Linked DNA regions of Homo sapiens: region 2 is linked to region 1. A link means that fine-mapping ties the variant in region 1 to the expression of a gene that starts in the linked region. Tissue or cell type: whole blood. Region 1 holds a variant in brackets; the other region holds the start of a gene. All regions are shown on one strand. Distances are between the middles of the regions.

Region 1 (8,000 bases):
AAAAGCAGAAGGAAGTAAGGAAGAGCCGAGAGGGAGAGGGGTCTCAGCTTAAATGTCACTTCCACAGAGAATGTCCCTGAACAATGGAGGTAAGATAGCTCCCCCTCCCACCCTCACCTACCACAGCCACATCTCCTGTTTCATTCATTTATTTTTTAATAGAGACAGGATCTCACTCTGTGGTCCTAGCTGTAGTGCAATCATAGCTCTCTGCAGCCTCCAACTCCTAGCCACAGGCGATCCTCCCACCTCAGCCTCCCATGTAGCTAGGGCTACAGGCATGTGCCACCAAGCCCAGCTAAATTTTTTTTTATGTTTTGTAGAGACGGGGATCTCCCTATGTTGCCCAGGCTGATCTCAAACTCCTGGGCTCAAGCAATTCTCCCACCTCGGCCTCCCAAAGTACTGGGATTACAGGCATGAGCCACTGCACCCAGCCACCTACTTTATTTTCTTTGTAGAAAGCATCCCATAAGAACGCAAGTACCATACAAGAAATAAAATAAGCTGGGCACAGTGGCTCACGCTTGTAATCTCAGCACTTTGGGAGGCCAAGATGGGCAGGTCACTTGAGGTCAGGAATTTGAGACCAGCCTGGCCAACATGGTGAAACCTCGTCTCTACTAAAAATACAAAATTTAGCTGGGCATGGTGGTGGGTGCCCGTAATCCCAGCTACTCGGGAGGCTGAGGCAGGAGAATTGCTTGAACCTGGGAGCCAGAGGTTGCAGTGAGCCAAGACCGTGCCACTGCATTCCAGCCTGAACAACAGAGTGAGACTGTCTCAAAAACAAACCAACAAACAAACAAAATGAAAATTCTGTTTTGCTTTCCATTTTAGTCCTAGTGCCTAGAAGAGTGCCCTGGATATAGTAGGTGCTCAATTTAAAAACTGTTGAGTGGGCTCACGCTTATAATCCCAGCACTTTGGGAGGCCGAGGCAGGTGGATCACGGGGTCAAGAGATCGAGACCATCCTGGCCAACATGGTGAAACCCTGTCTCTACCAAAACTACAAAGATTAGCTGGGCGTGGTGGTGTGTGCCTGTAGTCCCAGCTACTCGGGAGACTGAGCCAGGAGAATCGCTTGAACCCAGGAGGCGGAGGTTGCGGTGAGCCGAGATTGTGCCACTGCACTCCGGCCTGGCGACAGAGCGAGACTCCATCTTAAAAAACAGAACAAAACAAACAAACAAAAAACACCTGTTGAGTGGATTAACACACACTTCCATGTAGATGTAGTCTGGCAAACAGGCACATGCCCAAGTGGAGAGGGCTAAGCTGCCGACTGCGTGGAGGACCCCATAGTTCCGGCGTCAAAGCCCCACCTTCTTGTTGTCTCGGTCTCCTGAAGAGTCATCCCGAACCTGGAAGCTGTGCAGGTTTACAAAGTCCTTGAGGTCATAGGAGTCTCCCCTGCGCTTACAGATGAGTAGAGCTTTGTCGAGCAGGAAGGCATACCTGGAAGGATGGATAACGCATTCCTGTCTGGCTCTTCCCAACTGTCCCCATCAGCCCTCTGACCAGTTCCTCCACATCCTGGTCCCACCCTGCCCTTCTCCTCCTCCTTGGCCAACTTGGCCATGCCCACCTGTCCATCCTGACTTCACCCACGTGATCCGCATTGGCCCTACTGCCTGTCAGTCTTCGCTCCACCCATACCCCTCGCTGGCCCTGTCCTGCCTGTCCATCAAGGCTCCACCGCCTTCTCTGGATGGGTCTACCACCTGTCTGTCTAGAAATCTTGCCTCACCCCCACTCAGGTCCCTCCCCAAATTCATCTTAATTCCACCTACAAGTCTACATAAGAACCTGGCCCCACCCCTACCCAGGCTCCACCCCAGATCTGTGTTGGCTCCACCCACCTGTCCATCTAGGAGCCTGGCCACGCCCCTATCCAGGCTCTTCCCCAGACCTATGTTGACTCCACCCAACTGCCTATCTAGAAACCTGGCCCCATCCCTACCCAGGCTCCACCACAGATATGGTTTGCTCCACTCACCTACCCATCTAGGAGCCTGGCCCCCACCTTGCCCAGGCTCCACCCAGATCTGTGTTGACTCCACCCACCTGCTCATCTAGGAGCCTGGCACCATCCCTGCCCAGGCTCCTCCCAGATCTGTGTTGACTCCACCCATCTGCCTATCTAGAAGCCTGGCTCTGCCCCTGCCCAGGCTCTGCTCCAGATCTATGTCGACTCCACCCACCTGTCCATCTAGAAGCCCGGCCCCGCCCCTGCCCAGGCTCCACCCAGATCTGTGTTGACTCCACCCACCTGCCCATCTAGGAGCCTGGTCCCACCCCTTTGCCCAGGCTCCATCCCAGATCCATGTTGACTCCACCCACCTGTCCATCTTGGAGCGCCGTTCCACCGAGGTGATCTTGAGTTCCCCGTCGATCTTGGGCCGGCCATAGTGAGCCAGAGACTGGTCCTATGCAGTAGGCAGGGGGTCTAGCAAGGGTCTCCCAAGAAAGGAGCCAGACACACACTCTCCCCACGTGGCCACACCCCTGGCCCACCCGGCTCCACCGCCTCACCAGGTTCTCAATGGACAGCTGGAAATTGGTGATCTGTCGCAGTGTCTCGTTGTCTCGCTTGACCTCGTTCACGCACTGAGCCAGGTCCTGGGGAGGGGGCAGGGGTGAACCTGGCCCCCCAACAGCCGACCCAGGCTCCTACCTAATCCCGGCTAGAGGATCAGCCCCTACCAGGAGGGTGTCTGCAGCAGGTGAGTCACCAGCACCCTACACCCACTCACCCTCATGGCATCCAGGGCCAGCCGCAGGTTCTCCTTCTCCATCGCCTCCTGCGTGTGTTTCACCAGCTCCTGAGAGAACCAAGACGTCAGACGTCACCTGGGCCCCTCCCCTTCTCCCTGCGGGGAGGGCCTTCCAAACAATGCTAGCTCACCAGCTCCTCCATCGTACTGCTGACCCTGGAGGCTGAGACATGACCCCAGTGACCCATCCCCGAGCGTCCTAGAGACCCAACCCCCAGAAGCCAGCCCCGTCCCCACTTTTATAGACACAGGAGAGTAGGTACGTGGAGCCCACGCCTAGAGATGTGCCTGGCACCTGGAGAAGGAGGTGATATTTGAGAACTCGCTGCATAGGCACCATCAGCAGGTCCCGCAGGGTGAACCTCCCGTTGTTGGCTCTCTGAGAACATTCCTGGGGAATCAGAGAACAATGGGGAAACTGAGGCAGGTCCCAGAAACAGCCAGTTGCAGGGTGGGTGCAGATAGATTTGAATAAATACGTGAGCAGCTCTCCACCCCAGAGCTGTGGGAATTTTTCTAGAGGCCAAAGCATCATATCTGCCCCCAAGGAAACAGGAAAAGGACTCCATGAGGTGGGGGCAGCTTGAGAACCACTGGAAGGAACTTTGGGAGGCCGAGGCGGGAGGATCACTTGAGGTCAGGAGTTCAAGACCAGCCTGGCCAACACGGGGAAACCCCGTCTCTGCTATGAAAAAAAAAAAAATAGCTGGCGTGGTGGCAGACTCCTGCAATCCCAGCTACTCAGGAGACTGAGGCAGGAGAATTGCTTGAACCCGGGAGGCAGAGATGGCATTGAGCTGAGATCACACCACTTCACTCCAACCTGGGTGACAGAGGGAGACTCCATCTCAAAAAACAAAGACAAACAAACAAACAAAAAAGCAATGGGAAGAGGCTGGGCACGATTGCTCAGGCCTGTAATCCTAGCTCTTTGAGAGGCTGAGTGGGTGAGTCGCTTGAGCCCAGGAGTTTGAGACCACCCTGGATAA[C/T]ATGGTGAAACCCCATCTCTGCAAAAAACACAAAAATTAGCCAGGAATGGTGGCATGCATCTGTAGTCCCAGCTACTCAGGAGGCCAAGGTAGGAGTTGGGAGGATTGCTTGAGTCCAGGAGGTCGAGGCTGTGGTGAGCTATGATCATGCCACTACACTCCAGCTTGGGGGACAGAATGAGACCCTGTCTCAAAAAAACAAAACAAAACAAAACAAACAAACAAACAAACCCACTGGAATGTGGCAAATGCTGCCTGGGATAGAGGTCCAGTATTCTGCCTGCTGAGGGGGGCTGGAGATGGGGAGGGGGACAGATCTGGAGAGCCCCCGTCCTCACCACCCCTGCCCTGTCTGTGTTTCCACCAGACAGATCCAGGTTGAAGTTCAGTTCAAGATCAAGTTCAGCCTGGGATCAGGGGTTGGTTGGAATTGGGGTTCAGTGAGAAGTGGGAGCTCAGCCCGACTTGGGGTACAATCAGTGCTAGGGCTCAGCCCAGGGCTGGGGTTGAGTGTGAGATCAGAGCTCAGTTCAGGGTCAGGACTTCACCCTGATATCAGGGGTCAGCCCAGACCCAGGGCCAGCCCATTTCTGTTCTTCTCCATTTCCTCTGCTTGGCTGGCTAGTACCTCCCTCCCTAGTCCTTTGGTGGATCTCTGGCTGGGCTGCAGCAGAAAGTGGACCATCTGCAACTCAGTGTCCTCCCTGCTGCCCCCAGGGCCTGGGGAGGAGCGGGAGAGGCCCCCGAGAAGTGGCCCGGCGCCCACCTCCAGCTTCATCTGCACGTCCTCCCGGGCTGCGGCCACACGGTCCAGGTGTTTGCTGGCTGACTCCACCTGGCTGCAGTAGCGGCCATAGACGAGGAACCTACAGGGAGAAGACAGGCCACCAGGTAAAGGTGACTGGCATCAAGGTCGGGCAGAGGCTGGCGTCAGCCCTGGCCTTGCTCTTCCCCGCTGGAGAAGAAACCTGAGTCCCAGTTTCTCCATCTGTGAAATGGGCATAACAATAGCATCTCCCATGTGAGGCTATTGTAGCATTATCTCATTTAATGCTACAGTAATTTCACCACAGTACCTGGTATTGTCTCTGCCCAATGTTTATTTATTTTTATTTAATTTAATTAATTTATTTATTTTTGAGACGGGGTTTCACGCTTGTCTCCCAGGCTGGAGTACAGTGGTGTGATCTGGGCTCAGTGCAACCTCCATCTCCCGGGTTCAAGCGATTCTCCTGCTTCAGCCCCCCGAGTAGCTGGGATTACAGACACCTGCCACCATGCCTGGCTAATTTTTGTATTTTTAGTAGAGACGGGGTTTTGCCATGTTGGCCAGGCTGGTCTCGAACTCCTGACCTCAAGTGATCTGCCCTCCTCGGCCTCCCAAAGTGCTGGAATTACAGGCGTGAGCCACCACGCCTGGCCTGTTTTTATTTCTGAGACAGAGTCTTGCTCTGTTGCCTAGGCTGGAGTCCAGTGGCATGATCTTGACTCACTGCAACCTCCGCCTCCCGGGTTCAAGCAATTCTCCTGAGTAACTGGGATTACAGGTGCATGCCACCACGCCCAGCTAATTGTTTTTTGTATTTTTAGTTGTATTTTAGTTGTATTTTTAGGCGATGGAGACGGGGTTTCACCATATTGGCCAGCCTGGTCTTGAACTCCTCACCTTAAATGATCCACCCGCCTCAGCCTCCCAAAGTGCTGGGATTACAGGCATTAGCCACCACACCTGGCCAATGTTCCTTCATTTAACAAATACTTATTGAGCATCTACTATGTGCCAGGCCCTGTGTGCATCCGTATAGTCAACCCTCACCACCAGCCTAGGAGGCACATTCCTGTGGCCCACTGATGTACAGATGAGGAAGCAGAAGCACAGAGAGGTTAAGTGACTACCCAGTGCCACACAGCAGAGCTGGGAATTGAACCAGAGATGGGCAGCCCCTCGCCCATGAACACACAGCAAAAAGTCCTCCCCGTCCAGTGGTGTCTGAGGGTAAGGTCTCTCAGATGCCCAGCCTAGGCAAGACAGAGTGACCCCAGAGCTTCAGTCTGGCCAGCTGGGTCTCACCTCTCCTTGTATTTGATGAAGACCTGGTAGAGATTGGCTGCGCCAGGGGTGCCCAGGGCTTCCTTCATCTCCTTTAGGAAGTGAGTATGAACACGAAGCAGGTCCTACTCGGAGGGAAGGGTGAGGGCTGGGACCAGAGCCCAGGGCTCAGGGGGCCAGGAAGGAAAGGGTCATCCACCCGCCCCATGCCGCTCAACTCCCAACCCCCGTACTCCAGGGAGAGGTAGGGGCAGCAGGTTATCCGCACTAGACAGACCCAAGAGGGCTGGGGATCGGCCGGCTCACCTCAATGTTGATAAAGATGATCTCAATGTCTTGAGGTTTCAGGAACCGTTGCAGGGGCTTCAAGAAATGCTGCGGGGAAGGGAGAGAAAGATGACGGAAGATAAGATTCCCTCCTCCAGACCAGTCTCAGAGAGACAGGGGAAGGAGACAGAGAGAGGGAGATAAAGAGAGGCAGCGCGTCCACACAAAAACTTGTACAAGAATGTTCACAGTGAAATTATTCATAATAACCCAAAAGCGGAAACAACCAAAATGCTTATCAATGGGTAAATGGGTGTTTCAAATGTGGTCCGGCCAGGTGCGGTGGCTCACGCCTGCAATCCCAGCACTTTGGGAGCCTGAGGTGGGTGGATCACGAGGTCAGGAGTTCAAGACCAGCCTGGCCAAGATGGTGAAACCCCGTCTCTACTAAAACTACAAAAATAAGCTGGGCACGGTGGCAGATGCGTGTGATCCCAGCTACTCAGGAGGCTGAAGCAGGAGAATCACTTGAACCTGGATGGCAGAGGTTGCAGTGAGCTGAGATCACGCCACTGCACTCCAGCCTGGGTGACAGAGTGAGACTCTATCTCAAAAAAGAAAAAAAAAATGTGGTCCATCCATACAATGGAATATTATTCAGCCATGAAAAGGAATGAAGCTCTGACACAGGCTACAATGTGGATGAACCTTGAAAACACTACGCTCAGCAAAAGAAGCCAGACACATATAAACCACATAGTATGTGATGCCCTTTATATGAAATGTCCAGAAGAGGCCAATCCACAGAGACAGCGAGTAAGCTCGTGGTTGCCATGGACCGGGGGAAGATAAGAGATTGAAGGGGAACAGCTAAAGAGTTTGGGGTTTCTTTGGGAGATGATGAAAACGTTCTAAAATTAAGGCCGGGGTGGTGGCTCACACCCAAAATCCCAACACTTTGGGAGGCCAAGGCAGGAGGATCACTTGAGGCCAGGAGTAGGAGACCAGCCTGGGCAACATAGCAAGACCCCATATCTACAAAAAAAATTAAAGAATTAAGCAGGGTGTGGTGGCATGCACCCGTGGCCCCAGCTCCTCAGGAGGTTAAGGCAGGGGGATCACTTGAGCCCAGGAGTTCGAGGCTGCAGTGAACTATGATCGTGCCACTGCACTCCAGCCTGGATGGGAGAGTGAGACCACATTTCAAAACAAAACAAATCAAAAAAAAAGAAACAAAAAAAACCAAAACAAAACAAATGAAAATATTCCAAAATTAGACAGTGATGATGACTGCATAATCTTGTGTGTGCCAAAAACCATTGAACTGTATATTCTAAATGGGTGGATTACATGTATATTAATGAAATCTCAATAAAGCTATTTTTAAAAGAAATGGAGAGGTGAGGATACAGAAAAAGACTGAGCCTGGGATAAAGAGCTACAAAGGAGAGAATGACACACTGAGGAAGAAAGTAGCGAGAGGAGACCCAGAGGGAAAAAGAGACAGAGTGAGAGATAAAGAGAGAGACAGAGAGACAAGAGGAAGAGGCCCAGTGCAGCCTCACAAAGGGCTTGGATTACAGGAGGATTGCTTGAGCCCAGGAGTTTAAGACCAGCCTGGTTAACATAACAAAAAATATATATAAAATATATATTTGTATCTATTACATATCTTATACATACTTTATATATATATCTTTAAATAATGATATATATCTTTAAAAGATAGATATATAAGCCAGGCACAGTGGCTCATGCCTGCAATCCCAGCACTTTTGGAGGCCGAGGTGGGCAGATCACTTGAGGTCAGAGTTCGAGACCAGCCTGGCCAACATGGCAAAACCTCGTCTCTACTAAAAATACAAAAATTAGTCGAGCATGGTGGTGCATGCCTGTAATCCCAGCTACTTGGGAGG
Region 2 (8,000 bases), 54 kb after region 1:
GGATGGGTGGATGGATGGATGGATGGATGGATGAGTAGATGGATGGATGGGTGGGTGGGCAGGTGGATGATAGATAGATGAATGGATGGGCCGGGCGTATGGCTCACACCTGTAATCCCAGCACTTTGGAAGGCTGAGGCGAGTGGATCACAAGGTCAGGAGTTCAAGACCAGCCTGGCCAATATGGTGAAACCCCATCTCTACTAAAAATATAAAATTAGCCGGGCGTGGTGGCGGGTGCCTGTAGTCCCAGCTACTCAGGAGGCTGAGGCAGGAGAATTGCTTGAACCTAGGAAGCAGACGTTGCAGTGAGCCGAGATCATGCCCCTGCACTCCAGCCTGGGTGACAGAGTGAGACGCCGTAAATAAATAAACAAATAAATAAAAAAGACAGATTAGTGGATGGATGGATCCATGGATAGATGGGTGGGTGGATAGGTGAATGGGTGGGTGGGTGGATGGGTGGATACATGGATGGAAAAGTAGATGGATGGATAGACTGATAGATGGATAAATGAGTGGATGGATGGATGGATGGATGGATGAGTGGATGGACGGATGAGTGGGTGAATGAGTGGGTGGTTGAATGGATGGATGGATGGATGGATGGATGGATGGATGAGAGGATGGATGGATAGATGAGTGGATGGATGAATGGATGAATGGATGGATGGATGGGTGGGTGGATGGGTGGGTGGATGGATGGATGGATGGATGGATGGATGGATGGATGGATAGATGGGTGGGTGGATGGGTAGATGGATGGATGGATGGATGGATGGATGGATAGATGAGTGGATGGATGAATGGATGAGCAGATGGATGGATGGATGGATGGATGGATGGATGGATGGATGAGTGGATAGATGAATGGATGAGCAGATGGATGGATGGATGGATGGATAGATGAGTGGATGGATAAATGGATGAGCAGATGGATGGAGGAGTGGATGGATGGATGGATGGATGGATGGATGGATGGGTGGATAGATGAGCAGATGGATGAATGGATGAGCAGATGGATGGATGGATGGATGGATGGATGGATGGATGGATGGATGGATAAATGGATGGATGGATGGGTAGATGGATGGATAATTGGAGGGATAGATGAGTGGATGAATGAGTGGATGGGTGGATGAACGGATGGATGAATATGTTCTTTCCACCCTCTTCCCAAGAAACAACTGAGAAAAAAGAGAAGGACTCCGAAGAGAAATGACAGAAACTGGGAAGAATTCTCATTCCAGCCTGCACACCTTTATTTATGCCATTTCCTCCACAGGAGCACCTTTCCTTTTTCCCTCTACCCTTTCACATCCCATGGGGCATTCACAGCTCTGCTTCAATCTGTGGACAGTTAGGCACCCAGAAACCCAGAGAGGTTGTTCCTGTGGCAGCTTCCTCTGGCTTCTTGTCAAGACCTCTTACCTTCCCTCACACGTCCCCACTACATACCAGACACACGGCCGGGCTTCAAAGGGCAACAAAATGGGTAGGGGCAGGAATGTGCCCCCTCGAAGAGGGAAAGGGTCTGGGTACACCGATGCCCAGCCTGGAGCCTGATACAGCTGGGCACAGGAAGCCAGAACAATGAGAAAAACTCCTATTTACTCTTCAAAACCCCAGCACAAATGTCCCCTCTTGCATAAAGCCTGACCCCATCTGGGTTCCCGTTGTTCCCTGTTACAGAGGATTAGGACTGTATTTGGAGTGCAGCTGCTCTCCCAGGGATTAGCATCATGCACCCTCGTCCTTCATCCAAAAACTAGCTTTAGCTAAGACATACACAAGAATGGAAGTTCATCCTTAAGTCTATCCACTTTCCCATTAGCTGCTATTGAAGCATCACAGAGAGCTTGACTCCCTGCCAGGTCTAACAGATGGGGCCTAACAGATCCCATGACTACTTCCTCATGCCCTAGAAACCAGAAGATTAAGCAAATGTAGGCAAAGCTGGGATGGGCTGTGGCCAGAGGATGGATGCTTAGGTTGGTGGGGGGAGTGCCTTCTCCTTTCAGGAAGCCCTGTCCCAGCTGAGGACAGTGTAATCCCCTGGCACTAAAGAAACAGAAGGGCCGGGCATGGTGGCTCATGCCTGTAATCCCAGCCTTTCGAGAGGCCGAGGTGGTCAGATCACCTGAGGTCAGGAGTTCAAGGCCAGCTTGGTCAACATGGGAAAACCCCATCTCTACTAAAAATACAAAAAAAAAAAAAAAATTAGGCAGGCATGGTGATGTGTGCCTGTAGTCGCAGCTACTTGGGAGGCTGGGACAGGAGAACCACTTGAACCCAGGAAGTGGAGGGTGCAGTGAGCCAAGATTGCACCACCGCATTCCAGCCTGGGCAACAGAGCAAGACTCCATCTCAAAAAATAAAAGATAAGATAAAAAAAAACAGAAGGAGCAGCCGGGCACAGTGGCTCACACCTGTAATTCCAGCACTTTGGAAGGCCGAGGTGGGTGGATCATTTGAGGTCAGGAGTTCAAGACTAGCCTGGCCAACATAGTGAAACCCTGTCTCTACTAAAAATACAAAAATTAGCCAGGTGTGGTGGTGGGCGCCTGTAATCCCAGCTACTCAGGAGGCTGAGGCAGGAGAATTGCTTGATCCTGAGAGGCTAAGGTTGCAGTGAGCTGAGATCGCACCACTGCCTCCAGCCTGGGCGACAGAGTGAGACCCTGTCTTTAAAAAAAAAAAAAAAAAAAAAAAAAGGCTGGGCGCGGTGGCTCACACCTGTAATCCCAGCACTTTGGGAGGCCGAGGTGGGCGGATCATGAGGTCGGGAGATCGAGACCATCCTGGCTAACACGGTGAAACCCCTGTCTCTACTAAAAATACAAAAAATTAGCCAGGCGTGGTGGCGGGCGCCTGTAGTCCCAGCTACTCGGGAGGCTGAGGCAGGAGAATGACGTGAACCTGGGAGGCGGAGCTTGCAATGAGCCGAGATGGTGCCATTGCACTCCAGCCTGCGTGACAGAGTGAGACTCCGTCTCAAAAAAATAAATAAATAAATAAAATAAACAGAAGGAGTAAAGGCGCATGGATCTCTTCCACCAATGGCCCTGCCCCTGAAAACCACCCGCCAGGAACCCCCATGGGCCCATCTCCATTAACTTATCCTCCCAGCTCTTCATCTGCAGGGCCAGCCTGAGGACCAGATGGGAGCTGTCCCCTCAGACCTCAGGGCAGGACTGTGTCCCCCAGGCCCCAGGATAGGGCTGTATCTCCTTTCATCCCAGAGGAGATGGGACTCCACCAGCCCCGCCCCGTCCCCCGTTCCCACCCAGCAGCCCTGGGGAACCAGACATGATGCTACAGCAACATAATGCAGCCACATCACACGCCCACCCAACCACATTCAAATAGGGATTTGAATATATTTCCTGAGCCAGTCTCATACAGCCACAGTCAAATCCACCACCACCCCTCCAGCCTGGGCCCCTGCAGAAATCCCTGCCGAGAAAATGCAGCTCTTCCAAGCACCAAGACCTCAGGACCCACTCTCTGAGCCCAGGACTGGGCCCTGCCTTACTATCTCCTCTGAGATGGATGCAGGGAGGAAGCTCAGATCCCTGGGGCTGCAGCCCCCCACCTGCCCCATGCTGCCCCAGGCCCAGGCAGGAAGCCAAGGGGAAGGAAGATGTAAGGGGAAGGAAGGGGCCCAGGGCCCGGGAGGAGGAGACACATGTGGGGGAAGATGTTGGCGGAGGCTCCTCCCCCACATCCAGACTCTGGGGGTCAAAGGAGTCCAAAGCCTCAGGTAACCCAATGGCCACCCTGGGGGTTCTGGGGAGCTCCCCCGAGACCTCTGGTTGGTCCCATCTGGGGGCATGAACCACAGTAGAGGCGCCTGGGGCTTGAGAGAGTTAACCCCTAGTTTGCCAGTTCTCAGCCCAGATGCGGGCCAACTCAGGGCCCGTGAACCCACACAGGGAGCCTGTTAAGCTTGGGGAGGCCACCCCAGAATCTCAGATTGTGACCACCCCCTGGGCCAGCCCTGGACCTGTAAGCATATTCCCTCTCCTTTGCAGGCCCAGAGGTGGAGCAGCACGTCAGCCCCTCGACTGTCAGCCCCGGGGAGGACCCCCGTCTCCAACCCTCAGCACACCTGCCCGCGGAGGGCTCACCTGGGACATCTGGGGGCGCAGGTTGACCTCACGCAGGTTGATGGCATGGGGTAGCAGGTTGTTAAGCAGCTGACACAGAAGGACACCATCCCGGAGGGCCTGGGCCAGTTCACACACCTGAGCCCCATCCCAGGTCACGCGGTGGCTGGGCGGCAGCACCCGGCACTGGATGAGCCAGTGGGTGCATTGGCGCCACAGCTCCATGGCTACCGCCTGCCCAGGGCCGGCCGTGCACCCTCGCAGCCTCCACCACCCACCCGCCCGCACGCCTGCCCTGCTCGCCTGTGGAGCGACAGCTAGTGCTACCACTTCCTCTTCTTTGCCTGTAACTGTCGCCCTGAGAGGGGGTGGAGGAGGAGGAGCCATGGGGCGGGGGGGAGCTGGGGGAGCACCTGCAGCCCAGCCCCACCCCACGCCTTCCATGCAGAATCTGACATCTCTTTCTTCCGCCCACTCGACACAGGCCTGGGCATGGGGAGTTGGGGGGCTGGGGGAGTCAGGCCAGCTAGACTATGAGATGGGTGAGCTTCCTCCATATGCAGACGGCGGCAGTGACACTCTGAAATATACCCAGAATTCACCCACTTCTCACCCCCTCCTCTGTCTGGTCCAGCCCCGTCATCACTCAGCTGGTCTTCTGACTCCAGCCCCCGTACCCCACAGTCTGTCCTCCCTGCAGCCACCACCAGAGGTTGCCTGTGAGCATCTGAGTCAGGGCACACCCTTCTTCTGCCCACAACTCTCTATGGCTCCCACTTTCCTCCAGGGACAAGCCCAAGTCCTCCCCAAGGCCCACAAAACCCTGCTTGAATTGCCCAGTTCCCTCCCTGCCCTCCCCACTCCCTCTCTCCCCCTCTTCACTGTGCTCCAGCCACACGGGCCTCTTCGCTCTTCCTCCAACATGCCAGGAACATACGGCCCTGCCCCAGGGCCTTTGCACGGGCTGTGTCCTCCACCTTAAGCAACTTCATGGCTAGCTCCCTCACCCCTACATGTCTTTGCTCAAATGCTACCTTCTCATGAGGTCTTCCTAAATCCCCTCATTTCAAATCACAGCCTTTTCCGCATTCCATTAGCTCTACCCACCTCCCTAGGTTAAGCCCTGATCTTTGTCCAACAAATCTGATTTTTTAAGTTATTTTTTTCCTTCCTTCCTTTCTCTCCCTCTTTCCCTCCCTTCCTTTCTTCCTTCCTTCCTTCCTTCCTTCCTTCCTTCCTTTCTTTCTTTCCTTTCTTTCTCTCTTTGTTTCTTTCTTCTTTTTTTTTTTTTGAGACGGAGTCTCACTCTGTCACCCAGGCTGGAGTGCGGTGGCGCAATCTCAGTTCACTGCAAGCTCCGCTTCCCGGGTTCACGCCATTCTCCTGCCTCAGCCTCCTGAGTAGCTGGGACTACAGGCGTCCGCCACCGCGTCTGGCTAATTTTTTGTATTTTTAGTAGAGACAGGGTTTCATCGTGGTCTCGATCTCCCGATCTCATGATCCGCCCGCCTCAGCCTCCCAAAGTGCTGGGATTACAGGCGTGAGCCACCGCGCCAGGCTTCTTTCTTCTTTTTTTTTCTTTTGAGACGGAGTTTCACTCTCGTTGCCCAGGCTAGAGTGCAGTGGTGTGATCAGCTCACCACAACCTCTGCCTCCTGGGTTCAAGCGATTCTCCTGTCTCAGCTTCCCAAGTAGCTGAGATTACGGGCATGCATCACCACGCCCAGCTAATTTTGTATTTTTAGTAGAGACAGGGTTTCTCCATGTTGGTCAGGCTGGTCTCGAACTCCTGACCTCAGGTGATCCACCTGCCTCAGCCTCCCAAAGTGCTGGGATTACAGGCGTGAGCCACCGCGCCCGGCTTTTTTTTTTTTTTTTTTTTTTTTTTTTTGACAGGGTCTCATTCTGTCACCCAGGCTGGAGTGCAGTGGCATGATCTCAGCTCACTGCAAGCTCTGCCTCCCAGGTTTTCCCTGACCTCAGCCTCCCAGGCAGCTGGGATTACTGGCACCTGCCACCATGCCCAGGTAATTTTTGTATTTTCACAGAGACAGGGTTTCAGCATGTTGGCCAGGCTGGTCTCAAACTCCTGACCTCAAGTGATCTGCCCGCCTTGGTCTTCCAAAGTGCTGGGATTACAGGCTTGAGTCACTGTGCCCAGGCTCTTTCTTCTGTCATCCAGGCTGGAGTTCAGTGGCATGATCATAGCTCACTGCAGCCTCAAACTCCTGGGCTCAAGTGATCCTCCCGCCTCAGCCTCCCAAGTAGCTGGAACTACAGGCTTGTGCCACTGTGCCTGGCTAATTTTAAATTTTTTTGCAGAGAGGGGCTTTTACTATGTTGCCCAGGCTGGTCTTGAACTCCTGGCCTCAAGCAATCCTCCCACCTCGGCTTCCCAAAGTACTGGGATTACAGACGTGGGCCATGGCACCCGCTCATCATTGTTTCTTTATTGTCTGTTCAAGAATTTATGTTTCTTTGGTTCACTACTGACCCCTCTCTTATGCAGCACCTGACACATAGGCATGCCCCTTAAATACCTGTTGAATGAATAAATAATTGAAAGCTCTATTGACTGCACCTGACATTTATCCCAAATCCATCCCTTTATCACCATGTCCATGGTCACCACCCAAATCCAAGCCACCATCATCCCTCTCCTTATAGACTACAATAGTGTCTTTTTTTTTTTTTTTTTTTGTCTTGCTCTATGGACCAGGCTGGAGTGTAGTGGCGCAATCTCGGCTCATTGCAACCTCTGCCTCCCAGATTCAAGTGATTCTCCTGCCTCAGCCTCCCGAGTAGCTGGGATTATAGGTGTCACCATGCGTGGCTAAATTTTTGTATTTTCAGTAGAGACAGGGTTTCGCCATGTGGCCCAGGCTGGTCTCAAACTCCTGGCCTCAAGTGATCCACCTGCCTCAGCCTCCCAAAGTGCTGGGATTACAGGCACGAGCCACTGTGCCAGGCCCAATAGTGTCTTTCATTAACTCATTCAACAAACATTTACTGGCTTCCCGGCCATTACCTTATCATTAGCTGAAATCATCTTCATGAGATTAGGTCTCTCTGCCCCCATCCCTAGCTTCCACCCCAGTAGAGTGTAAGCAGGCCCTCCCCCGTCCACCTAATACGTGGCCCTCATCATGGAGTTTCTTTTTAAATTATCGTTATTATTATTCTTAGGAGAAAGTTTCACTCTGGTTGCCCAGGCTAGAGTGCAATGGTGCAATCTCTGCCCACAGCAACCTCTGCCTCCCAGGTTCAAGTGATTCTCCTTCCTCAGCCTCCCTAGTAGCCGGGATTACAGGTGCATGCCACCACACACAGCTAATCTGCTCACAGCAACCTCCGCCTCCCAGGTTCAAGTGATTCTCCTTCCTCAGCCTCCCCAGTAGCTGGGATTACAGGTGCATTCCACCACACCCAGCTAATTTTGTATTTAGTGGAGACAGGGTTTCACCATGTTGGTCAGGCTGGTCTGGAACTCCTGACCTCAGGTGATCTGCCCACCTCGGCCTCCCAAAGTGCTGGGCCCTCTTTTTAAATTATTATAACCACGAGGAGGCGCTAGACCCCTTCCCTGAACATGCCCCTACCCTCTGACTGTACCAATACCAGACCGGTGAGGGATAAGGAAGAAACTTTCTTCCCCTCTTGAGCCTGGAGTCTCTTCCATATTTGCCAGGGCCAGTCGGGGGAGCCCAGTCTGGAAATTCCCTGCTTTGCAACCTACAGGCATCAAAACTTTTCATCCCCAAGCATCGTTGGCCCTCTAGGCCTCAATTTCCTCATCTGTAAAATGGTGGGTGAGTAACTTTCACCGCAAAGCAGCATCGTGGAGAAAGTGGGCATGCGAAGATTGAAAAGGAGGCAGACAGGATAAAGCTC

What was found. PIP is the estimated chance that this variant, and not a neighbour inherited with it, causes the effect.
Region 2: VAV1 starts here. The variant in region 1 is fine-mapped to the expression of VAV1 in whole blood (TOPMed, PIP above 0.99).

What each region holds. Positions count from the first base shown.
Region 1 is chr19:6,823,245-6,831,244 of GRCh38, reverse strand. VAV1 (vav guanine nucleotide exchange factor 1) reads right to left here. Exons shown (of 27, transcript NM_005428.4): 7 at 6,124-6,192; 8 at 5,839-5,942; 9 at 4,534-4,633; 10 at 3,074-3,169; 11 at 2,758-2,826; 12 at 2,537-2,623; 13 at 2,345-2,430; 14 at 1,327-1,459. Among named protein-coding and RNA genes, the nearest start is that of VAV1, 55 kb to the right of the region's middle. The variant C/T (reference allele first, on the strand shown) is at 3,768.
Region 2 is chr19:6,769,142-6,777,141 of GRCh38, reverse strand. VAV1 (vav guanine nucleotide exchange factor 1) reads right to left here and starts at 4,434. Exons shown (of 27, transcript NM_005428.4): 1 at 4,131-4,434. The coding sequence starts at 4,334. RefSeq lists enhancers at 3,546-3,595, 3,704-4,204 and a silencer at 4,366-4,615.